5 separate regions of the Homo sapiens genome follow, and regions 1, 2, 4 and 5 are each linked to region 3. The links come from fine-mapping of genetic effects on gene expression. A gene starts in region 3. Each other region holds a variant in brackets. All regions are shown on one strand. Distances are between the middles of the regions.

Region 1 (5,132 bases), 32 kb before region 3:
GCTGGGATTAGGGATGTTAGCCACCACACCAGGCCACTTCAGCATGGCAAGAACAGAGGGAAACTGTGAAGTAGCAAAGTGAAAAGGTATATGACAGAAGTCAATTTACCTCCACTTTAATATCAAAATAATATTTTAATATAATTAATATCATTTAATATCAAAATAATATTGAGTGAATGATTCCATAATGAATCATGGAATTCATTTGAATGATTCATTCCATTCATTTTCCACTAAGAAAATTAGAAAACATTATTTGATATTAGCAGCCAACATCCATATCTTATCAGGTCTGTGGGATTGGTAATGGGAAATTGAAATATGCTAAACAGTACCTCTTAGTATCCTGCTGGAAAATCTTTCTATGTTTAGGGACAACTACAGAAATATTCACCAAAAATATCCGAGGGGGAAAACCCCTGTACATTACATGTAGAATATTAACACCTACAAGGTGGAGAAGAGAGAGGACGGATAAATTCATTAATCTAAATTAAGCATATCCAGGTCACTGGCTATGGTGGATACTTGTTGGGGCACACATACACCAAGTCACTCTTCTTAAAAATTATCTAATGTTTGTTCTGGCATTCTCTGATCGCCACCCTGCTGGTGTGTTGGGGGAATCTGCCCTGTGGCCAACTCCAAAGTCCAATCCTGTTTGGCAGAGACAGAAAAAAAGAAACCCTAAATGACCCAGAGAGTGGCTGAATCAATCTAATTCTGTAACTCACCATACCTCTAATCTTTTCAATGATATAAGCTTTTATTGTTTAAGCCAGTCGGCATTCAATTTTCTGTTTCTTACCATCAAAGTCATTCTACCTGCTGCATTGGAAAAATCTACCACACATCCCTGGGTATGTTACAATGAACCTTTCCCTGTGGGAATAAAACAAGAGCAAATAAAGAAGTAAACGCTGGGCAGGAACATTGCAAAAACACTAATAATCCTTTTTTTTCTTCCTGCAGACTGCAATGCACGTAGCTTGCAGTAAAAATCTTGAGAAATATCTAAAGCCAAAAAAGCTATTTAATGGTTTAAACCAGTTATCTAAGTTGATTTGACCTTGGTATTACCAATTACACAAAACCAAGTAATATCCTACCTTCTGACATACATACTTTGGGGCCTTGGTACTCATCTTCATGGCAAGTAAGCTGATTCTTAGTTATATGCATACAAAGCCTGTTAATTTTTAAATCCACACTCATTTCTCTTGCAATCTGGAGCCTTGTTGGAATATCTCTCACTGCTTTCAGCTACTGCCTGAGCAAATTAGCATGCATGTACTCCTGAACAAAATAGATTGAGCAAAGCGAATCTGTGGCTTCCAAAGTTATGTTACGTGAAAATACAGAGGTCTTTGGAATCACTGAAAAGTTCTGGGCTGTATGTGCATTTCTGTCTTCAAATGCAAAGATGTCCCTACATCTTCAACATCAAGAGTGTAGGGTTTAAGAGCATAGTTCCAGAGTCAGAGACTACGTGAGTTCAACTCTTGGCTCTACCACTTTTAAATTGTGTCGACTTGGCAAGTTTATTTCCCCAGTCTCAAGTCCTTATTATAAAATGTGAGTTATGATAGACAGTATGTAAAGTCTAGCGTGGATATAAAAATTTAATGATCGTAATAATAATTCATATAAAGCAGGCAGCACAGTACCTGGCACATAATAAAGGTACAACAGATGTTTCTTGCTGTGATTGTAATATCTGCAATTGATACTGGAAAAGAAAATAATTAATGCATGAAAAAATGTATCTTCCCAAAGATATATCAGGGCTTCAGGGAAAAGAAACGTGAATTAAAGTAATAATAACTCTCAATATAAAGTGAGTGGATCCAACTTAAAGTTAAACATTAATTCTTGATTATTTGCTTTGGGAAGAGGAAGGAACAGAGTACATTAAAAATAAATAATACCCCAACAACTCATAAACCCAATAACTACAGCACAGCTTCAACATGTCTTAGAACAAAATTCCCAAAACAACAAGAGACCCATGTACAAATTAAGTTAAAAACATATTCCATAATGAAATCTACAGTCCTAAAAACCAGCATTTCAGATTATCAGTAACATTAAATGAGCATACAAATTCAAACCTGTGTTTTCAGATTTGCGGCTGACCTACAACAGAAATAAATGAACTAACTAGAGATAACTCCTTTATTGGGCTTCCATCTAAAGCTAAGCTTTACTTAGGCTTTCAAATTGTTGCACTTACTTCCTAAATCAGATATGCCACCAAAACTGCCCACTTTTGTCAACTGTCAGGAAAACTGACAATACGAAGTTCACAAAGACGAAGCAGGGAAGAAAATAGCAATTTGACTTGCAGTCCACTCTCAGGTTTTAACCGTATGGAAAATTTTATATACACATATATTTTCCAAAGTTATGGAATATGGTTTAGAATCTCAGGAATCCCATTCTCACTGAATAATTAAACTGGGAGAATGAGAGGTTTCACACCATGACAATGCCACTATCAGAACTTACTGAACCCCAGAAAGGACCTATGGCCACCTCACCCAGAGGAGCAGGCTTGTCCATGCACACGCACAGACCACAGTATGAATGATGCCCCTGGAACTGGATAATGCATAATCTCCATTTCTTAGATTCCCGCCCTAAAAGGAGGGCCACATTTGCTTACAACAGCTCAAGGCCTAGATTCTCTGGAATTTTCCCAAGAGAGTTATTTTGCATTTGCTTACAATTTGAAAGCCTAAGTAAAGCTTAGCTCTAGATGGAAGCCCAACGAAGAAAGTATCTCTAGTTAGTTCATTTATTTCTGTTATAGGTCAGCTGCAAAGAGTAGC[A/C]TAAGAGATTTTAATCAAGCAAATACTTGGAGCAAAATTAGTGCTGACAACAATCTTGTAAGCAAAATTTGTGTGCAGGTGAGTCAGAATGTGTTTTGTGGCACTGAAAGAGTTAACCACCTGTCCTATCAACAGTGTTTACTTTTGTGTTTGGCTCATTCACTTCCTCAGTTTCTCCACAAACCTAGCTTATGAAATCAAATGACTGCAAGCAACTAGCTGTAAAAGCTAAACCCCTACTGAGCACTTTCTATGAGCGTGATACTCTGCCAAGCATGATTTCATTTAATTCTCTCAACGATCCTAGAAGAGGGCACCGTTTTACAGCCAAGGAAACTGAGGCACAGAAGTTTTGCTGGTGGACACACCACTGAAGAGGGGATAGAAAGACTGGACCAGAGGCAGCTGTTATGCATGGAAAGGCGTCCCCTGAGAAAGACACGTTGAAGTCCTTTCCTGCTATCTGTGAATGTGACCTTATTTGGAAATAGGTCTCTGCAGACATAATCAAGTTAAAACGAGGTCATTTGGGCAGGTGCTAACCCACTAGGACTGTTATCTTTATAAAAAGAGGAAGATGTCTACTAAAAAAATGCAAAAATTGGCCAGGCGCGGTGTCTTACGCCTGTAATCCCAGCACTTTCGGAGGCCGAGGTGGGAGGATCACGAGGTCAGCAGATCGAGACCATCTGGCTAACATGGTGAAACCCTGCCTCTACTAAAAATACAAAAACAAAATTAGCTGGGCATGGTGGTGGGCGCTTGTAGTCCCAGCTACTCGGGAGGCTGAGGCAGGAGAATGGCATGAACCCAGGAGGCGGAGCTTGCAATGAGCCAAGATCACGCCACTGCACTCCAGCCTGGGAGACAGAGTAAGACTCCGTCACACACACACACACACACACACAAGCAAAAATTAGCTGGGTGTGGTGGCACACACCTGTAGTCCCAGCTACTCGGGAGGCTGAGGCAGGAGAATCGCTTGAACCTGTGAGGCAGAGGTTGCAGTGAGTCGAGACGGCACCATTGCACTCCAGCCTGGATGACAGAGCAAGACTCTGTCTCAAAAACAAAAGAGGAAAACGTCATGCAAAAACAGACACACAAGAAGGCAGCCATATGAAGATGGAGGCACAGCTTGGAGTGATACTGCACAAGCCAAGGACCACCTGGGGCCACCAGAAGCTGGAAGGGGCAAGGAAAGACCCTCCCCTGGAACCTTCAGGCCAACTCCTTGATTTTGGACTGCTAGTTTCTAGAGCTGTGAGAGAACAAATCTGCATGGTTTTAAGCCACCCAGTTCATCAAAAGATGTTAAGGGAGCCCCAGGAAACAAACTCAACATTGCAGGCTCTCCCCAGCTACTCTTTCCTGCCTCCATTTTCTTTCCACTTGACCTGACCTATCTGCTAAGAGACAGAAACCAAAATTTTCATTCCACCTTCTTTTTCTGGACTTGAGATTGCTACAGATAGAAAGTGCAGCACATTTTGAACTGTCTTTAACAGTGTGTTTTTTAAAATTAATTTTCACATTAGAGCATTCTACCCCTAAGTATTTTCTAGATCAGCTCAGGCATCTCTGCTCCCCATACCTCTACCCCTGACAGCAGCCTGCAGCACCACAGTACTCCAAGCAGTTAGCAACTTCAAAACAGATTTTCAAAGTGCAATATCTGGTGGCCTGGCCCAGTACATTGCAATAAGGTAAGGCCCGTAGGGAGATTCCAGAATCTGGAACTGGATCTGCCCAGGCCCCTGGGGTGAGCAAGACCTCTGGCAAGGAGAAAGAGCTTCAGTAGTGGGAAGGGACTGTGCTGTGCCAGTGCAACTCTGTATCTGGTGAATAGCAACACCATGGATGCGTCAGAGTCAGCTCAGATAACCTCGGTCAGATGCTGACCTGCAGAAGTCTCAGGCAGGGCCAAGCGTGGAGATGGAAAATCCAGAAACACACAGATGCGGGCAGGCAGAATCACAGAAGTCATCTCGCAGGTATTATAAGGAGGTGTCAGTCATCAGGTTAAGCGTGGGAGGCAAACTGCAGCTTCTGCAGTGAAGGGGCAGTGAGGCGAGATGGGGATGGTAAGAGTCAAGTGCCCAGCTCTCAGGGTGCTGCAGAGGCTAGGAGTCGGGTACTCGCAACAAGACTAAGCAGCTACGGAACATGAGTCGAGGGAAGAAGAGCACCCAGCGTGATTGAGATCTCTCCAGTGTTGGGTCCCAGGGTCCTAGAGACTCCCCCATAACCCCACTCCTACCCCCCAGGACTGAGCCCGCAGAGGAGGATGCTGGCAGG
Region 2 (5,132 bases), 57 kb before region 3:
ACATTTTTCCGGTTTCCTCCTTTGAGCAAACTAGGCTTTCTTTTTTAAACTTTAATTCAAGGAAAGAAATAACAATGCAACACCAAAGCACTACTTTCCACAGCAGCAAATTAGAGAGGGCTAATTTGTGGGCATGGCTGTGCCCTGTTATCTGTACCTTGTCACTTTAATTCAGCACAACCCAAACCCGGCAATTCCTTTCATTTTGACTTTTCCACAGAGCAGAATTTTAGCCTTCACGCTGGGTTTCAAAGAGTCCAAAATAAAACCAGCCCACATTAAGCAAAACAGCCACATAAAACCTTTCCTTTATGTATGGAAGAAAGGACTTTCCAAGTTCAAAAGGATTTTTTGTTAAGCAGTCTTGGTAATGTTTTTAAAAGTCTATTTTAAAAAGTTGAGTGTTTTTCCCTCCATTGTGTTGATGCACATGTAGACCAGTATGTCTATTTCCTCTAGCGGAAGCAATGAAGTTGTCACCTGAAATGTGTACACTTCAGTCCACTGCTAAAACACCTCAGGCAAGCGAGAGTCTCGAATCGTCCAGGTAGAAGACAAACCTTCCATCCTGCCACACTGTGGAGCATGAAGAGGCAGGAATAATAGCTTGGTCACAGGTAGTAGGGAGACACAGGACTCTCCAGACCCTGATATTCAGCTTTTGCTGGGAAATCCAGTTCTCCTTTAACCATAGGAAATAGGCTGTCAGGAGTGTAGGGGAACCAAATACTTCCACCTCTACCTAGGGGTATGCGTAAAGAATGAAGCACGGGCATCCCCCGAGATTCTTACTAATTCTCCAGCATGTGCAACCCTCATTAGGGAGAGCTGCTCTTTGAAACAAAAATTAATCACCGTAAGCAGAAAGGCACGCTTCCCACAGTCTCTCCCATGTTGCCCAACTTCCAAAATCTCATAGCCTTCCCTATCCCACCTCTTGAAATTCAGATTCTCTAGCGCTTTCATCCCCTGAGAAGTCACCCATGCTCTGGTTCCAGAAATCATTTGGTTAAAAATCAAAAGAACAAGAAATGTCTGTGTATAGGCTATCACAGCAGCAAGTTGTAAAACTGCACCATGGACGTAAAAATGCAGACTTTTTAAAAACACAAACGGTAACTGGAATTTAGACCTGGTGCCTCCACCCTAAATCTGTATTTTGCAGCTGTCGCTATGAGCATAAAGTCAGCCCCTTAACTGAGCAGGAACCCAAGAAGCATTTCTTCACAGCTGTCAGGCTTGCGCCACTTGCATGGAGTATGAACGGTTTCACATGAAGCCCGCACTCACTGTGCAAGGGAAGGTCTCGCAGAGTGGAGGGTGGCAGAACTCCTCCCATCAAGTAGGAAATCTGACTGACAAAGACACAGGTCAGTAGGGTGCCCCAAGGAGCACATTTCTTATTACACTCTGCCTTTTTTTTTTCTTCTGACTCCCAGACGCACAGAGGCCCAGGGACAGAAAAAAAGCAAAAGCTACAGGTTCCTAAGCAGACTCAGGCCCTACCTGTTTTGAATAGCATGTGTTTCCAGTAATTCTATTTCTAATCCTTTTCATGGTCCCCTAGGTTAGGACTCATCACAGTCCCTGACCCAGTAAAAAAATCAAACAGATATCAAAGACTAATGTCAGAGTTCATATAGGGCTTATGGGTTTGTTTGCAAATGGAAACCAAGGCTCCGCTCTTTGAGACTTATAGGTGCTTACCACCCCCCAGCCCCCATGCTATTGCTTCTATCCACCAGGTGTTGAGGGCCATGAGCTTATCAGGAGTTTGCACTTTTAGATGAGAGGACAATCTGGTTATAGACAACTGCCAGGGCACACAGGTGGCTGGGGCAGGACACCAAATTGACCTGGTGACCCTGTAGACACTGTTTCCCATCCCCAACTGAATATGTGATAGAGGGAAGTGGTTCAATGTTCACATCAAGCCCAAATCAGGTATATTCTGGGAAAGTAGTCCCTTCCTTCCTTCCTTCCTTCCTTCCTTCCTTCCTTCCTTCCTTCCTTCCTTCCTCCCTCCCTCCCTCTCTCCCTCCCTCTTTCCCCCCACCGCTCTTTCTTTACTTCTTTCTTTCTTTTGTATTTTTGAGACAGAGTCTTGCTCTATTGTCCAGGCTGGAGCGTGGTGGCTCGATCTCAGCTCACTGCAACCTCCACCTCCCGGGCTCAAATGATTCTCCTGCCTCAGCCTCCTGAGTAGCTGGAATTACAGGTGCCCACCAACATGTCCGGCTAATTTTTGTATTTTTAGTAGAGATGGGGTTTCACCATGTTGCCCAGGCTGGTCTCGAACTCCTGACCTCAAGTGATCTGCCACCCCGGCCCCCCGAAGTGCTGGCATTACAGGCATGAGCCACCGCACCCAGCCCAGAAGTAGTTATTTATAAAGGCATTTGTGTGCAAGGCCTTATAATATTATGACAAAATATAAAATATAAAATTACACTAAGTTGAGGACTCTTATGTTCGACCAGTGTAAGCCAGTCTATATATGTACTTCCTCTCTAAAAATTCTTTGAAGAAAACAGAGTTTATACCAGGAGGTGCACACGGCCTTCGTTACTCATGGAAGGACCCACACCTTCATGGTGGGTCTCTAGCCACTGAGCCATCCAGAGACCCCAGTTGGGGGCCGACTTGCATGCCACATTCCTGATTTCAGGAACCTCTTCAGAAACAGCCTCTGCTACTCAAGAGCTTCAAGATTTGGGCAAGCCCCCATGTAACACTCACCAGGGAAGAGCTGGCTTTTATACAAGGAACGATTTGGGACCACAGGTTCCAGGGCTAAGTACCCAGAAGGCCTACAGGAGAAGTGGCCATCTGTGCAAGAAAGAGCAGCAAAGCCTGTAGGGAAGTGTGTGTACCCCCCTAAGAAAGCATTCAGTTGTAGAAAGAGAACTGTAATCTCCACACACATGCAATGGCCCTGCGTGGACTTTGCACCCAGAAATTGAAGAACTTGAGTTTCCAGCAGGGAGACACACTGTTCTCAAATGAGAAATATAGATATTCTGGCTAAATTTCGAAAGGAAGTCTGCAACCCGGGGAAGTTAAAGAACTCTAGAGATAATAAAATATTCCAGGATGGTAAACTTTTTTTTTTAAAGTCTTTCCTTCCTCTGATGTGGCTCCAGACTTCGAAACAAAACAAAACAGAAAGAGGGAAGTTGCTACTCTAGAGGTCAGCATATCTCTAACTCAAGT[T/G]CCCACATGGCCAGTGGTCTCTGAGGCAGTACAGGGTAGCAAGGAGAAGCTCTAAGGAACCTGAATAAAGTGGCATATGCCTCTGACAGTTAACGTATAAAACCAACCCAGAAAGAAGGAACACAAGATCCCAGATCTGCAAAGCCATTCGAGAGTCCATGGGGCTTTGCAGTTGGCAGAACTTGGTGACAACCTAGCTGAGGCCATTCGCATATCTAAAGCATGAGCACGTCAGTCAGAAGCAGAGGTGGCCAACCATGAAATCTGAGCAAATTGGCGCTGCTAGGCTACCCCAGCTCTATACAAGGGAGGGCAGCCCCACTCTAGCCTCTCTCTTCCACATCTGCTGCCAGGTGTGAGGCCTCCCTATAGAATGGAGAGATGGGGCTGTCCTGACTCTGGAGGCCTCTGGACTTTCTGATCACACTGGCTAGCTCTTCTCACTGTGATTCTATGTTTACCAAATGCTCTCCTGATTACAACTCCTTCCCTTGACGTCTGCCTACAGGGAGGAAATCTGCTAGTCTGAGTACCAGTGGTCTTGATGATATTTCCTACAGTAAATCATCAAATTGGCCTCTGGCTCCCCAGTCACTAAAAACCTGCTAATTGCATCTGCCCTGGGAGGTAACTGTGCTCCCCTGGAGCCTGCTGTCTTCTGAGCCTGTTTGCACTTAAGGCCACCTCCTGAGGGTTGCTGAGAAAGGATGCAGGTTTTCTCTTGGTTGTGCCCCTTGGCTTCACCACCTCCCCACCCCCAACTCATTCCAAGGTCTACCAAGACCACTTCTGCACACATTTCCATCAGGACATAATACAAAACATCTCTCCTGGGCAACTTGTCCATGAGGAAAAGTCTAAGCTTGTTCATTAATTTTTATTCTTTCTTAAAAATTTTTATTTTGAAGCAATCTCCAATTCACAAGAAATTGCAGATATAATATAAATAAATTTCATTCTTCCTGAACAACTTGAGAGTAACTTGCCAACCCAGTGGCTCACCACCCACTAATACCTTAGTGAAGATTGCCAACAAACAATGGCATTCTCCTATATAACCACCACACAAGCATTCAAATCAGAAAATTAACATTTAATACACATTCTATTTGCCCTTGTGACCTCGTTCAAATTTCACCAAATGTCCCGATAATGTACTTTATAGTAAATTATTTCACCAAATGTCCCAATAATAGTACTTTATAGTACATTATTTAAAAAAAATCCAATTCAGAATCACACATTGCTTTAAGCTGTTGTGTCTCTTCAGTCTCTTCATTCTAAAGTGCTTCCCTCAGTTTTCCTCTGCCCTTGACCCTTTTGAAGACTATAGACTGGTTATTTTGTTCCTCAATTTGGGTTTGTCTGGTGCTGCTGCTACTGATTAGATTCAGGTTATGCATTTTTGGTGGAAATATCACAGAAAAGTGAAGCTGCAGCCTTTCCCTTGCCTGCTATCAAGCGGTGCCTGGTTTTGGTTTATCCAAAAACCAAAATCACTGTTCATTTGTTCCTCAGCTTGCTTTTTTATGCTCAGATCCCCACAAGCCCATAAAGATTGGCCTACCTACTCCAAGGAGAGGCTGAACTAGAAGGGCCTTGGGCATATCTTGATCTGTATCTTCTCTGCCTTGTATGGTATAAGTGCTCCCTGCTCTGCCCCCTAGATGGGATAAATAGGTGGAAAGGAGAGATGATATGGTTTGTGGACAAATAGCAGAATACTTTAAGTCCTACTCACACAATTTTTCCATAGCTAAGTAGAGGTAAGCTGCCTTAACTTTTTGATGCAAGAAATAACCCCCTTTTTACTCATTCATTCATTCATTCATGCCACTTATATTTATGGGGAGCCTCTCCCTGTTAGGCCCAGGGACACTAATATAATGTTGGACAATACCCTGCCCCAAAGGAGAGAA
Region 3 (5,000 bases):
CCTGGTATATTTCCCTGGTGGATCTCTCCCAGTATAGCCACCTCTCATTTAGTCAGTCAACAAACACTTATTGAGCACCGACATCATGCTAAGAATCCATCCAGGTTCTGGAGCTGTAAACAAGACAAGGTAGTCACTACCCTCATGGAACTTCTGCTCTAACAGGGAGAGAGACAATACTCAAAATACACCAATGACTGTATAATGCCAGGGAGTAAAAGGTACTAAGACAAAAAACTGAGTAACATAAGAGGCCCAGGGAGTGTCTGGCTGCTATTTTATATGGGGTAGCCAGGGAAGGCCCCCTATAAGCTGACAACTGGACAGAGACCTGAAAGAAGCAGGGGAAGTGAGTCATCTGGACATGTGGGAGAAAAGCTCCTCCTGTAATATCATGGGCAAAGGCCCTAGGGAGAGAACTCAGTGAAAAAGAAGAATGTAAGACGGTGAGGGTGCCTGCAGTTACCAAGGACAGTAAGCATGACCATCACTAGAACTGCCCATCTTCTTGCCCAATGACTGCTCCAGGCCCTGAGTTTCCCCAGACTCCCATCCGGGTCTGCCTCCGAGCCTGCCCCTCCCTGATACCTACCATACTTCTTGTTCTCCAGTTCAGTACCCTCCTGACACAACCCCTCCCCAAGAGTCCCAGCAGTCCAGGTCATTTTCTCAAAATTTACCAACCTAATAAAAACAAACAAAACAGAGTAGAAACAAGGCAGCATGCACATTTAACCACAGCCTTCCAGAGATAGGAAATGTACAATAATAAAGAGTAAAGCTTCAAAAGGTCAGCTATAAGAAAAATTAAAAATATGTGATGTTTCTGCAGGGGATCTGGCCTCCTAACTTACCATTATTTTCCCCCAGATCTGTAAATTATGGGACATTAATGCTTGAAACAACCTTGGAAAGTAGGCATGGAGGTGAGATAATATGAGAACCCTGGCCAGAGGAGACCCCAATAATAGCTGCTGCCGGTTTTTGCAATCTCAAAGTGATTCTGAGAAGGATTATATCCCTCTATGTCCCAAAGTTGCTCGCAGGGTTTTGGTGTGTAAATACAGGTCATTAATTACTTTTATAGAAGCAAAAGAGAAACACTCAGATATTCTTCCATAGCTTCATCCCCAAGTCACTGGCAGCGCCCAACAGGAAGCCTCCGCTTCTGGAGGCCTCAACCCGTCTTAGATTATCTGAAATCTTAACCATAACGAATTAGGCCCGAATCATTCAAGGCCAGCGGTGTTGGGAAGCCCATGATCCAGCGCGGGGGGCATCCCAAATATATTCACTGAGTCTCGGGAGCCGTCCAGGGACTCTCAGAGCTGGGTCACTACCTGGGACCAAGCCTGAGGCTGGTCCTTTAGGTCAAGGCAGGTCCCGACCCGCCTCCAACTTCAAATGGCCCCCTAGGCGGGAGAGGGTCACTGGGCGGGGAGTTCCTGGCTGTGCGGTCACACACACACACACCGACTCACACACACACCCACAACACCCCCCCCACACACACACACTCACACACACACCGACGACACACCACACACACATACATACGCGCGCGCGCACACACCACACACACACACACACACACACACACACACACACGCCGCCTCGCGCGCGCTCGCGGCACAGCACCGACTTCCCAACCCCAAACACACGCGCGCACCCCCGGGACAGCTGAGTTCTGTATTTCCTCTTCCTCAAAGCGACTCCGGCGATCGCAGTCGCCACTCTCCGCTCCGATTCCCGGGCCCCCTGGCATGCCGCCGCCCCCTTCTCTGAAGGCGCGCCCGGTGCGTCCCCTCTCCGAAGCCGAGATTTCCACGAAGCTCCACAAAGCTCCCCGCCGCCTCTCTCGGTCTCGGCGGAGACCCCGGTGTGTCCCCGGGAGGAGAGTATTTACTAACCAGAACCTCAGGGGCTCCCGGCTGCCCAGACCGCCCTCTCCGGCCCTCCTGGCCCCCATTCCTCTGGCCCATCACCGCCCCCTCCCACGAGCGCGCTCGCCGGGGGATTCCCTCCCATCCCCGAGTGCAGGAGAAGACGCCGAGTCTGAGCCGCAGCCGCTTCTCTAGCTCTATAGGAATCTTGACTCCAAGATCCCAGCCCCACATCCCCCGTCCCCAGTAACCCCGCGCCAGCGTCGCAACCCTCCCGCGCCCCCCCTCCCGCAGACCCTGGTCGAAATGTCTCGGCGGGCTCCCGGGCCCCGGGCCCTGCGCTTCATCCGCGGGCGCCGCACCTCCAGCGCCCCCTCCCTCCGCTCCCACTCCCACTCCCGCCATCCCCGGAGCTCAGACTTCCCCAACTGCAGAGCGCCCCGACGCGCCCGCAGCCCTCACCCTGCCGAGCGCGGCGGCCACCCCCGCCCGAGCCGCGGCGCCCCCAGGGAGGAAACAAAAGTGTCTCCGCGGCGCCCGGAGTCCCCCGGAGCAGGACGCCTCCTCCCGGCCCCAGTCCCGGCCCCCTCCCCTGCCGCGCCGAGGTCAGCGAGTCGGGGCGCGGCGCCAGCCCAGGAAACTTTACGAACCTGCTTGGGGTCGCAGGACAGCAGCGGCAAGGGTTCCCGGCGATCAGAGCTCCGGCGACCCGCCACCATTGAAGGGGAACTGGAGGCTCTGTCGCCCAGCGTGGGGCCGCGGCGGCGTGGGTGGCTCTGCCTCTATCCTGTGCCCATCCTCGCCCGCTCCCGCTCGCCCCAGCACACGCACTTACACTCTGGGTCGGCCGGCTGCTGCACCGCCGGCTGCCGCTGCTCTCACTTCCTCTTCCTTCCTCCTGCTGGCCAGAGACACATTTTGCATCTGCAAGGCATCCGGAGATCAGCCGCGAACTCTCCTCCCGAGCGGACGCTGCGGAGTTGCAGCCGCCGCCCCCGGCACCTGCGCCAGGACACTCGTGGTCTGCGCGTTCGCCTTGCGCCCGCACCCTGCCTGGTCCCTGCCCACTGCACTTTGCCTAGGGGGATGCCCACGACTTTTTGAAGTCCCCCTACTTAAAAGACAGAAATGTCAAACACCATGCATGCCTCAGATCTGCTATAAATAATATGTGTGCAGAGCATGACTTCGATGAGCTCACACACGGCGTTTGGAGGCACTAATTAACTCCGTCACCCTCATAGCGCCATCTCCGGGAGGCCAAAAGCGAGTAGCATCTTTTCACATCCTTTTTTAATTTTTGGCAACCGGTTCCGGATATTAAGGGGAAACTTCGGTGGGCTGTTTGAACGCTACTTTAAGACGTGTTTGTTTTGACGCTGTGCCTCTACCCTTGGACAGAGTGGCAAAAAAAAAAAAAAAAAGTTTCCTCCCTCTCCGTCGACATCTATGTATTTACTAACCCTGCAATTGAAACTACAAGATGTATTTCTAACCAATTAAGCCAGGGACTTCCTAATTTTGCATAACTTTGCATAAGGCAAGACGTTCCACCCATAATTTGATATTTAGAATAAATTACTTAATTCATGCAACCTACTTAAATCATTTTCAAAGCAGAAATCAAAAACGTTAACTCCCAGCCTAGCTGGCAGGAGGGAAGAGGGTTGCAGGCGAACCACCTGTCCTCCCCCAGTTCAGAAATACCTACATTGGCTCTACCGGAAAAGTCAAAGGCAGTTCGGCATTTTCTTCTAATTGGCAAAGGAAATAAGTCGGGGGCAGGGAGGCATCAGAATCAAGGTGGAAAACTAAGCTCCCTTTTAAGATCTTCCCCCTCAAGAGCCACAGGCAGCTGTTGAGCACTTGAAATGTGGCTATCCCTGAGATGTTCTGTAAGTGTAAAACAGACATACAATTCAGTATTTTTAAAATGAATGTAAACTAACTTGTTAAGTATGTTTATGTTGATTACATTATTGCAATACATGAGAATAGTCTGATGTAGTAAGTCAGTTGGATTCGTCATGTGTTGGGTTAAGATATAAGCATATATAAGATTAATTTCACCAGTTTCTTTTTACATTTTCTGATGTAGCTACTAGAAAATGTAAGGCTACACATAGGCTCTCATTAGTGGCTCACCTTATACTTTTAATGAACAGCTCTGATCTAACTCCTTATTATACGCATGACTCTGGGAGGCAGTATTAGTATCAAGAGTGCCTGGGTCCAGATGGTTATAAGCCAGTAACTAAAGCAGGGTGACTGCAGGAAAGCAACTTAACTTCTGTATTTCCTCATCTATAAAACAGTAATGATATAATAACAAAAGTCAATAGCACCAACTATTAAATGAAGTAATTTAATAAGTAGTCAGTAAATGGAGCCTTTACTAACGATGCTCTGAGACACTTGTAGTGATAAGTATGAATTTGATCTACAACCTTGTAGCTAAGGCATATAAAGACCTTAACTTTAGTGCATGCGTGGTGAGCACTCAGTAAACATTAGCTGTCATAATTGTTCCCTCCTTGCACAGCAATTATGCAAATCCACTCCCCTGTAACCTTTGGTCCCGGGTCTTCACATCTTTCCTCCATGAAGTAGTCTTTCAGATCTTTGAAGTCAGCCCTCAAATTTTACCTAAACACTCTCTTTTGAGGATTAACCATCCTCAATTATTCTGACTCTTCTTCATGTGACATGGCTTCAAGTCTCTCTCATTTGAGCCATCTTCTCCCAGAAGAATATCTGTCTCTGCCCTTTAAAAAAAAAAAAGAAAAAAGAAAAAAAGAAAAAAAAGTAGTCTTATAGATTAATTACGTAATTAACCATTAGCAAACACAATACAGCCTGAGATCTTCTCTCTCTCTCTCTTTTTTTTTTTTTCTCAAATACATCTCAGTGTTGATAGGAGTGCAAGGGGAAGACTGGAAATTCTTTACAGTGTTACGGTTAGGCCATGTGCGGGAACATGGAGTTGATCTTTGGAACCAAAGTTCCTGATCCACTTTCTCTAAGTCCCTTAGGATTTAATTCAGGCATCCAGTGTCTCCCCATATCCATGGATTACATTAAAATATTAAGATGCCACATGACATCCCACTAAGGAGC
Region 4 (5,132 bases), 570 kb before region 3:
AGCTCTTGCTGTGTGCACAGCTCCATAGTAGAAGCTCCTGTGGGCAGAAATATGAGGAGGTACAGGCTCATCCCAGGATAGCTGCATGAAGAACCTGGTCTCTGTGGCCTAGCAGATCAGCCACATGGCATGGAATGGTGGGGAAAAGATGCGCCTTTGGAATCAGAGTGCCAGGGTTTGAATTCTACATCCACCAACCGCCTCTACTACTTTGGGCTTAAGTTTTGAGAGCCTCAACTTCCTTGTCTGCAATTTGTAACTCTAACATTATCTATCCCATATGGTTGCTCTGAGAGTTAAATCCTGATGCTGGAGCTGAGATCATTGTTGGCTTTTAATCTAGGCAGTACACAGTAGTGGGTGAAAATCTAGGCCATGGAGTTAGACAGTTACATTCAGATCTTTCTCTACTATTTACTAATCTTATGACTTTGAATAAGTTACTTAATCTTTCTGTATCTCAGTTTCCTTTCTGTAAAATAAGGACAATATTATCTACCTCTTTAGGTTGTTGAGAATAATTTATGTAAAGCCCTTAGCACAGGGCCTAGCATATAGTAAGCACTCAATAAATGCCATTTGCAATTATTCCCATTATCAATAATCAGAGTTAATTCTGTAGATGGAGAGACCTGAATTATTCGCTGTGCTTTGGTGACCCAAATTGCCCACAGTGCCTCCCTGTGTCGCCGCTCTTCGCATCCACTGGAGCAGGCTTCATCTCCACATGGGCAGGGTGAGCCAGAACTTTCCTCCCTGCCCCCTCTGATGTGGGAGTGAGGAATGCTGGCCTAGATTCTTTCAAAGGGAGGCAGTGAGGAACCCAGGGCATGGCTGGAAAGCAGTGGGGTCCTATGTTTATTGGGGGCTATGACAACCTGTAAGTCAGCTTGGGAGGGATATGGGGAGAGGGGGGATGTAAGAAGATGTCGATTTTCAAAGGCCAAATTTCCTGACAAAGAAAAGGAATACAAAAAGAAAGATTTCCTAAAGCTTTGGAGAAGACAGCCAAGGAGGCACCCTCAATCCTCATGTGCACTATCTGTATTAAGAAAACTCCATTATACTATTTGATTTATCAATAGCTCAGTATTCAGCACGGATTAACTCAAGGGGCACAAGACACTCTCTGCCTTGGTCTCAAGAGAGGGCAATGTTATGTGGCAAGAGCAATGACACTGAACATTAATTAAAAGCACGTCTCATTTTTCCAGTGGAATGAGGTTTCTGACTTTTAAGAGTTCCAAAAGGTGGCTATTTTGCTCCAGGCAGAATGCAGAATTGGAATTAAATGCAAACCAAGGTGGCAGGCCTGCAGCAAGAAACTTCAGCTTATTAGGCCGGGCTTTTTTTTTGTCTCAGGCACAGTATTGCTTCATTTCAATTCATTACATGAGTATACCCATTTCTCTAGCACATATGTGCAGAAGGATACAGTCTTACTAGTACACACACACTCTCTTTCTCTCTCTCTCACACACACACTCTCCCACAAGGTGTGGATAAATACTTGTGCAGATAAATAGATCCACACAAGTATGCATTGTTAGTTCATCTTGCAATGGATATACTGTTTTTGGAGCAGCTCTTTGGAACTTCATTTCAGAGGAAAGCAGTTGCTAAGAGTTTTGGAGGCATGGTCAGGAGGGGCTGTCACAATCCCTTCAAGAACCAGCCTTGCTCAGTGGCCACTGCGAAAAGCTGTGTGGAGATTTGCAGCTCTGGCCTTGCTCTCCTGCACTCACCCTGGCAAGCTGGCTCTCCCTGGCATCAGCACCTCTAGTTCCAGGTTAGTTATTTTCACCCTGGAGTCTTGGGGGTGAGGGTCTTAGCAGAGCTGGGGGGCATTAGCTTGTGGGCAAGACCAGGAACTGCCCCTACACAAGGCTTTGTTGCTGTGGCTGCCAATATCCTAGGTAGCTGGCCAATTAGCATGGGGGTGCTGTGCTAACACCTGGCAAACCTGTCGGTCAAGTGCCTATCTTTGGGTTGAGAAGTGATTACATCCCTATAAACATGGGGCTAAAC[A/C]CTATGTCCTGTTAGTGGGAGAGCAGATTCACTGGACCATATGGGGAGTCAAGCTGTGTTTGTTCTGTCCTGACCACTTTTCCCCTTGTGACAGGTTAAGAATGGGGCTGTGGGGGACCTCCTAGGGAGCTGCTATTTGCTTCAACCAACAATAACCTCAACTCTTTCTGTTTAACCACTGCAGAGCAGTGATTCCACATCGCTGGGCTCTGGTCAGTTCCTAGTTCACAAGGGAGTTTACACCAGTGAGCTTTTCACCAGTTAATAGCAAATGCAGAAAAACGAGAATGCTGGTGTGAGTTTTTCAGAGGGCTAATTTAGTTTAGCAGAAGGGACTGTCTTTTATCTAAGATTAGGTCCTTCTTACTTTTTTTTTTCTTGTAATCGAGGGTCCTTTCTTTTATGAAAGGGTTGTGATATTAAACTTTAGATTTTATTTTTTAATATCCTTTTTTTTTTTTGGCCCAAGTTAAAAGTTAGCAACATGCTATTAATTTACTTAAACTTTTTGTTTTTTTAAAATTATTAGTGAAAGCCACATTTGGGGAATCACAGTTCTGAAACTTGTGCATGTCAGAACTGGCGGGAACATCTGTTAAAACAGAGATGGCTGGTCCCCACCCACTGAGTTTCTGATTTAGCAGGGCTGGGAATGGGGTCTGAGAATGTGCATTGCTAAGAAGTTCCTAGGTGATACTGCTGCTGATGTTCCAGGGACCACGTTTAGAGAACCGCTGGTCTAGCTTGGCCAAGGTGGGGTGGGGAAGGCTGGAACTGTGAAAGGAGGATCCTCATTTACAGGTAGAGGCCCAGGACACCCCTAACTCCTGCCCCAAAGCAGGGAGGCATAGACAATGTCCCAGGCTCTCTGCAGCAGTGGATTTCAGATTTCTTTCTATAACCCCTGACTTAGGGAGCCAATAATGTGGGCTGGGAAGAAAGTTTTCCTATGAAAGAAAACAAGATCGTTTTCTGAACTAAGTGACATCACAAAGACCAGACTGTCCCATTTTTAAGCTGGAGGAAGAGTGAATGTTCTAGGCTATCTGCCTGAGATGTCAGCGCAGAGTCTGAATGTGTCAGGAAATTTCCCACTCATGGGTTATTTTCACCTTCAATGGCCGTGAGCTGTGAGGAAGGTAATCCAGATTTGACTTCCATGGGCCCCAGGGTAACAGGACAGAAGGTGTGAGACTCTGGGTAAGGACACTGTCTGGGACACGCTTATCTGAACACTGCAAGGTCAAGGTGACTTTTAAAGGTTATTTAAAAGTGCTCTGAATGTTTTCTCCCTCTCGGATTTTTCTACTTGGGATATCCTCTGAGGCTACGTTCATTTTATCTCATTTCTCCTCCAAATTAATTTATCACCCTTGTGTATTTCAGTGTTTCTATAATACTTGTTTAATTTGTATTGTTAACACTGTCAACCTGGCACCTGGTTCCCTGTGGGGCTAAAAGAATCCTGCACATTACTGTCTCTTCAAAAGCATGTATGTTAAAACAGACAACATATAGAAAAAGCCAAAAAATATACAAGAGAAATATTTAGCAAACAGTAGAGGTAACGGATCATCATTTTCAAAGTGTCTTTGAGGTAAACTAGCTATATTTGGCTCTGCCATTAACTCTGTGTCATAACTATGGGATACACTAAATTGTAAGGAATAAATGTTGTAGGGGTCAGGCATATAAGTTACGAAAATAAGAAATTATTTTGGGTTTTCAGAAAAAGACAGCTGACAGAATCAGGTTTGTATTGTTTTTGCTCCTTGACACAGCACCTGGATAAATAATGTAAAAAGTGGACATTTGAACCCCCAGTTTACGTCTTTCAATTAAGATACCTTTGCATCCATTTTACATTCTCCCCTATTCAGTTCCAAACCCCAAGTCCATCCAGGTCTTGTACTTGATGAGATGGCTCAGGCGACGACTTACAACTAGATGAGATGTGTTCAAAGGGCTTACTTAGGCTGATAGTTCTGTTGCGTGATATATTGTGACTAGGAAACAACCAACCGACCACCACTCAGGCCTCTGCCAAGGAGAGCTACTTACGTTTGTCCTGCAAGGAATCGTGGGGCACTTCTCCCTGAGGACTCTCTTCTAAGTCTCCGTAATGCAGGACTTTGTGATTTGGCGAAAGCCGACAATACCAAAACTTGTCTGAGAGAAAAAACACAAGTTTACAAGGTAAGTGATTGTGGTTTATCAAAATACTAGCCTGGTTATTTCTTAATACTCTTGCCTGGAGGAAACAAGCAGTTCATTTGATTTTAAGTCTTGAGGAAGAATGAATTCTAGGGCCCTGGGCAATAAATTCCCTTTTGACTTTAATATTTAGTTATCACCTGTCCTGCTTGGTATACATTTGGTAACCATTAGTAAAGTCATTGAACTCTTCAAGCTCAATAGCAATAGATTTTATGAGGTGGTGGCTTCCAGAGGTTATGTTATCACTAATGATAACCACCATGGGAACTGCTCCTTATTCATTTACTGACAAAAGAGGGAGGGAGATATAGAAAAAAAAACAGATTTCTCAGAATGTTTCTGCTTCCACTTTCCTCTCTGAGAATTTCAGACTGTTGAGACAGTTGTGTCCAAGGCCAGATTTTAGCTGATACAACAAACCCCTACCCTAGGCTACCACACGCACATTAATCATGAACGAATTGTTAGGACACTGGTAATACACATGGTGGGTGGGATTCATGAGGAAATCATCTAAATAATTCACGGATTTAGCCAAAGAATGGGGACATGCACAATCATTCTCCTCTCCAATTCCCAGAATTTACTTCTCTGGATAGGTATGACCAGGAGATTAGGGTCATCCTTATAAACAACTTCCTCAACTTTACTGCCTCAGTCTCTCAAAAGTGAGAAGAAATTTTGAGTAAGTCTATGAGGCAGGAAGAAAGAGGCAAAGAGCACTTTTTATAGGTTAGGGACTTGAACTGTGACAGCAATGCTTGTGCAGCTGTCTCCTCCAGGAAGCCCTCTTTATCCCTGCAGCCGAAGGGCCTCTCCCCATCCTCTGAGATGTTCTACAGTCTTCTTTGCACCACCAGTTTGGCTTGGACTGGCAATATTGGAGC
Region 5 (5,132 bases), 630 kb before region 3:
AAACTTGCTGCTGATGAAGAAGATGATGATGATGATTTTGATGATGAGGAAACTGAAGAAAAAGCACCCGTGAAGAAATCTATACAAGATACTCGAGCCAAAAATGCACAAAAGTCAAATCAGAATGGAAAAGACTCAAAACCATCAACACCAAGATCAAAAGGACAAGAATCCTTCAAAAAACAGGAAAAAATTCCTAAAACACCTAAAGGACCTAGTTCTGTAGAAGACATTAAAGCAAAAATGCAAGCAAGTATACAAAAAGCATATTGAACAGTCCAGGGGACTACTAGTAAATTAAGCCCAAAGGTGGGGAGAGAGAAAAAGGAGAGACAAATATAGTCCACACTGAGTGTCATCAACAATCCAGACTAAAGTTTTCTATTTTAATCTCAATTCCCTATTCTGATTTGCCACCCATGCCTCTTCAGGCTGGAAACCATGTCACTCTTGGTTCCCCAAAGCACTTTTCTTCTGACTGCTGTGATTCAATGAACCTTGCCCTTTGCTTTCTATTACTTGTGCATTTGCCTCACCTCTGACCATGTTTTAAATCACGTTTGTATCTCCTTAGCTGCTCAATAAATATTTGAATGAAAAAAATTAACTTGAAATTGAATAAAGACTTAATATAAAAGCTAAAACTATAAAACTCTTAGAAGGAAATGTAGATGTAATTCTTTGTGATCTTGGATAGGTAACTTTTTAAAATATAACATCAAAAGCACAAAAAAACAGGTAAATTGGACGTCGTCAAAATTTTAAAAATTGCATCACCAAAGAATACTATCAATAAAGTTAAAAGACAATTCACAGATTAGAAAAAATATTTGCAAGTCATATATTTGACAAAGGGTCTAATAATAGACTATTTAAATCAACTTTGCAACTCAAAAACAAAAGACAGCAACCCAATTAAAAGTGGGCAAAGAACTTGAACAGATGTTTCTCCAAAGAAGATATACAAATGGCAAATGAGCACATGAAAAGATGCCCAGCATCATTAATCATTAGGGAAATGAAAATCAAAATTACAATGAGTTACCACTTCACTTCCACTGGGATGGCTATAATAAAGAAAAAAAAGGAAAATAAATTTTTGTGAGGATGTATACATTTGAACCTTTGTGTATTGCTGGTAGGAATGCAAAATGCTGCAGCTGCTATGGAAGTCTGGCAGTTCCTCAAAAGGGTAAATGTAGAGTTACCATATGACCTAGCAATTCAATTCCACTCCTAGGTACTATCAAGAGAACTAAAAACAGATGTACACTAACACTACCTTTATAGTAGCATTACTCATCATAGCCAAAAGTAGAAACAACCCAATCCCCATCAACTGATGAATGGATAAAAAAAAAGTTAGTGCATTCATACAATGGAATATGAGTCAGTCATAAAAAGAATGAAGTAATGATAAATGCTACAACATGCATGAAGCTTGAAAATATTATGTTAAAAAAGCCAGTCATAAAGGACACATATTGTATGATTCCATTTGTATGAAATGTCCTAAATAGGCAAATCCATAGTAACAGAAATTAGATAGTGATTGCCCAAGGCTAGGGAAAGAGTGGAATGTGGAGTGATTGCTTAATTAGTAAGGAGTTTCTTTTTGGGAGTGATGAAACATTCTGGAATTAGATAGTGGTGGTATTGGTTGCACAACATTGTGAATATACTAAAAACCACTTGTACAGTTTACAATTGTTAAAGTGGTAAGTTTTATGTTTTGTGATCTTTATCTCAATTTAAAAAATCCAAAATGAGGGTAAAAACCAAGAAAGCAGAAGCCATGGGATCCAAGAAACAGGAGATACATTGGAAAGGGTTAGGATGATAGTGAAGGAAGTTCCTAGACGCCCACTGTGCATGGAAGATAGAGCACAACCAGTTCAGTGGCTTCTGGGAGAATATCTGTGAGAAGAGGATATTTTGCTCCTGATGTGTTCAAAAGTATTGAGAGGAGATATTGAAGATTGTGGAAGAATCTGAGCAAATATAAATGAAACTAAGTGTATTCATTTGGGTTTTCCAGAAAAACAGAACCA[A/G]TAAGAGAGATGATGGATAGAAAGATACTCAAACAGACGATAGATAGATATAGATAGATGATTAGATAGATAGATAGATAGATAGATAGATAGATAGATAGATGGACGATAGATGAGAGAGAAGAAGGAAAGAAGGAAGGAGGGAGGAAGAAAAGGAAAAAAGAAAGGGAGAAAAGGAGAAAGATGAAAAGATAAAGAGATTTATTATAAGGAATTGACTCACACAGTTACAAAGGCTGAGAAGTCCCAAGATCTGTATTCAGCAAGAGACCCAGGAGAGCTGATGGTAGAGTTCCAGACTGAGTCCAAAGGCCTGAGAATCAGGAGAGCTGATGGTAGAGTTCCAGACTGAGTCCAAAGGCCTGAGAATCAGGAGAGCTGATGGTGTAAGTTCCAGTCCAAGTTCAAGTCTGAGGGCAAAAGAAGACCAGTGGTCCAGCTCCAAGATAGAGAGAGCAAATTTTCCCTTTCTCAGCCTCTTTATTTTATTCACTTCCTCAATGGATTGGATGAGGCCCACCCCATCAGCAAGGGCACTCTGCTTTACTCAGTCCACAGGTTCAAATGTTAATCTCATTCAGAAAACCCCTCACAGAAATGGCTAGAATAATGTTTAACCACATAACTGGGTACCCATGGCCTTGTCAACATGACACATAAAATCAACCATCAAACTAAGTCAGTTAAAAAAAAAATCCAGTTATTAATTTCGCAGAAAACAAATAGTTGTGCATATCCTATGTGGCTCAACTGAGAATAGCATTTATATTTGTACAGTTATAATATTAATATTAAATATTGAATTTATCAAAAACTTGACATAAGTATAACTGGAGTTTGAGGGGAAGAGAAATGTTTGTGTGTGTGTGTGTGAGAGAGAGAGAGAGAGAGAGAGAGAGAGGAGATGTGATAATGGTGGGGCAAAGAGTAAAAAAGAGCTAAATCCTTATCTTCCATAGTGGGAAGTCATTTTATGCTGCCTAATGCTGAAAATCACAAGTAGTGCTAAAAATCATATGTTATTTATTGATACGCAGGTGAAAAACAAGAGCAATAGTTTAAAAAGCTGCAAAGGTAGCCTTTTAGGAATGGAAACTTGAGGTTGTAGGTGGGGAGCAGGTTATTGTTTTGGTTCAGCTTGATTTTGGTAATAATTCTGGTAAAACAATTTGACTGTATAAGTATGCATGTATAACTTTGATTAAAAACTAAATTTTAAAAATGTATGGTATATGGAGTTGGAGAAGATCAAATAACAATAGCCTACTTTTCCCTGCTAATTTATTGTACTGTACGGACTCCAAGTTTGATTAGGGGAGACAAATTCTTTCTGCATGTGATCACATAAGTACGTCATGTGTGTCTGAGTACATGTGTCTGCACGCATGTGTATGTGTGTTCATGGGCATAATAAGATATGCTTATTCTTACATGTGCCAAAATGAAGAGAGAGATATTCATACATATTGATGTAGACTGGCTTGTAAGCAGCAAGAGAGTAAATAATGTGATGCTTACAAGAAAAGATAAGAGACAACCGAAAGTAATGGAATTCGTTAAGGAAACCATAAGCAGACATTAAGTTTTTAAAAATCTAACTAAACAGCTCTTCTTTGGAATGTGAAGGCATTGTTAGATGAAATAATTGAGGATATGGAAATGACTGCTTTTTTTTTCTTTGCACTCGCTTTCTATAAATAGAGAAATATAATTATCATTGTCAAAAACAATGTATTATTCATTATGAAACTCATAAACACAATTAACAACAAGTTCTTGTCAGTTTCTGAAACAAATCAATGAAAGAAACACTGAAGGAAATAAATATTTAAATGCCATCTGATATTTTTAAAAAGAAAATTTGTATTCAAAATATATAAATTTGGTTGATTAAAAATTAGCAACTGTTTTAGAAGGATTTGTGTGGTAGCATAGCATTGGAGTTGGTTGCATCCTCCTAGGAAGAAATGAGCTTTGTTGAGATAGAATTCTGGAAGGGAAAGTATACAGCTGATTTTAACCCTGGAATCTTAACTCTCCATGTCTGCTAAGAACCACCTGGCACAATTCTCAGAGGAATAGTTTGGCTCAGACTGGATAGAGATAACCAAAGGACTCATTGAGAAAATCTAGACCCAAACAATTAACGAAAACATACGCGGTGGCTCACGCCTGTAATCGTAGCACTTTGGGAGGCCGAGGCGGGCTGATCACCTGAGGTCGGGAGTTCGAGACCAGCCTGACCAACATGGAGAAACCCTTCTCTACTAAAAATACAGAATTAGCCGGGCATGGTGGCACACACCTGTAATCCCAGCTACTCGGGAGATTGAGGAAGGAGAATCACTTGAACCTGGAGGCAGAGTTTGCAGGGAGCTGAGATCGTGCCACTGCTCTCCAGCCTGGGCAACAATAGCAAAACTCTATCTCAAAAAAAAAAAAAGAAAACATATACGTATACAATAAATAAGAAACAAATAGATATAAACTCTGGTGTTAATCCCTGGCTTATTCTGTCTGAAATTGTGTTAAAGCAGCAGTCCCCGACCTTTTTGGCATGAGGGACCCGTTTCGTGGAAGACAACTTTTTTCCACGGATGTGGGTGAGGGCATGAAACTGTTCCACCTCAGATCATCAGGCATTAGTTAGATTCTCATAAAGAGCACACAACCTAGATCCTTGCATGCACAGTTCACAATAGGGTTCATGCTCTTAAGAGAATTTATCTAATGTCTCTGCTGATCTGACAGAAGGCGGAGCTCAGGCTCTAATGCTCGCTCCCGTCACTCACCTCCTGCTGTGTGGCCAGGGTCCTAACAGGCTGTGGGCCAGTACCAGTCCGCAGCCCAGGGACTGGGGACTCCTGTATCATACCCATCCTTGGCCTGTTCTTTTCCCAGGTGTTACAAATTTCTCTTGACTTATAAAGGAGATGACCAATTGTTCACCCTTGTTAAAACTTGGTTAAGGCTGGGCACGGTGGCTCATGTCTGTAATCCCAGCACTTTGGGAGGCTGAGGCAGGTAGATCACGAGGTCAGGAAATCGAGACCATCCTGGCTAACATGGTGAAACCCTGTC

What was found. PIP is the estimated chance that this variant, and not a neighbour inherited with it, causes the effect.
Region 1: its variant is fine-mapped to the expression of ELMO1 in whole blood (INTERVAL, PIP above 0.99).
Region 2: its variant is fine-mapped to the expression of ELMO1 in blood mononuclear cells (TOPMed, PIP 0.96). The same link has a PIP of 0.9 or more in whole blood.
Region 4: its variant is fine-mapped to the expression of ELMO1 in T cells (TOPMed, PIP 0.98).
Region 5: its variant is fine-mapped to the expression of ELMO1 in whole blood (TOPMed, PIP above 0.99).

Annotation. Positions count from the first base shown.
Region 1 is chr7:37,413,943-37,419,074 of GRCh38, forward strand. The region is part of intron 1 of ELMO1 (engulfment and cell motility 1); the gene reads right to left. Among named protein-coding and RNA genes, the nearest start is that of ELMO1, 32 kb to the right of the region's middle. The variant A/C (reference allele first, on the strand shown) is at 2,835.
Region 2 is chr7:37,389,042-37,394,173 of GRCh38, forward strand. All of the region lies in intron 1 of ELMO1 (engulfment and cell motility 1), which reads right to left. Among named protein-coding and RNA genes, the nearest start is that of ELMO1, 57 kb to the right of the region's middle. RefSeq lists an enhancer at 3,468-3,577. The variant T/G (reference allele first, on the strand shown) is at 3,214.
Region 3 is chr7:37,446,142-37,451,141 of GRCh38, forward strand. It overlaps ELMO1 (engulfment and cell motility 1), which reads right to left and starts at 2,723. Exons shown (of 22, transcript NM_014800.11): 1 at 2,534-2,723. RefSeq lists silencers at 2,363-2,412, 2,423-2,472.
Region 4 is chr7:36,873,921-36,879,052 of GRCh38, forward strand. It overlaps ELMO1 (engulfment and cell motility 1), which reads right to left. Exons shown (of 22, transcript NM_014800.11): 19 at 4,090-4,197. Among named protein-coding and RNA genes, the nearest start is that of MIR1200, 43 kb to the right of the region's middle. The variant A/C (reference allele first, on the strand shown) is at 2,029.
Region 5 is chr7:36,819,421-36,824,552 of GRCh38, forward strand. It overlaps the pseudogene NPM1P18. Among named protein-coding and RNA genes, the nearest start is that of MIR1200, 97 kb to the right of the region's middle. The variant A/G (reference allele first, on the strand shown) is at 2,052.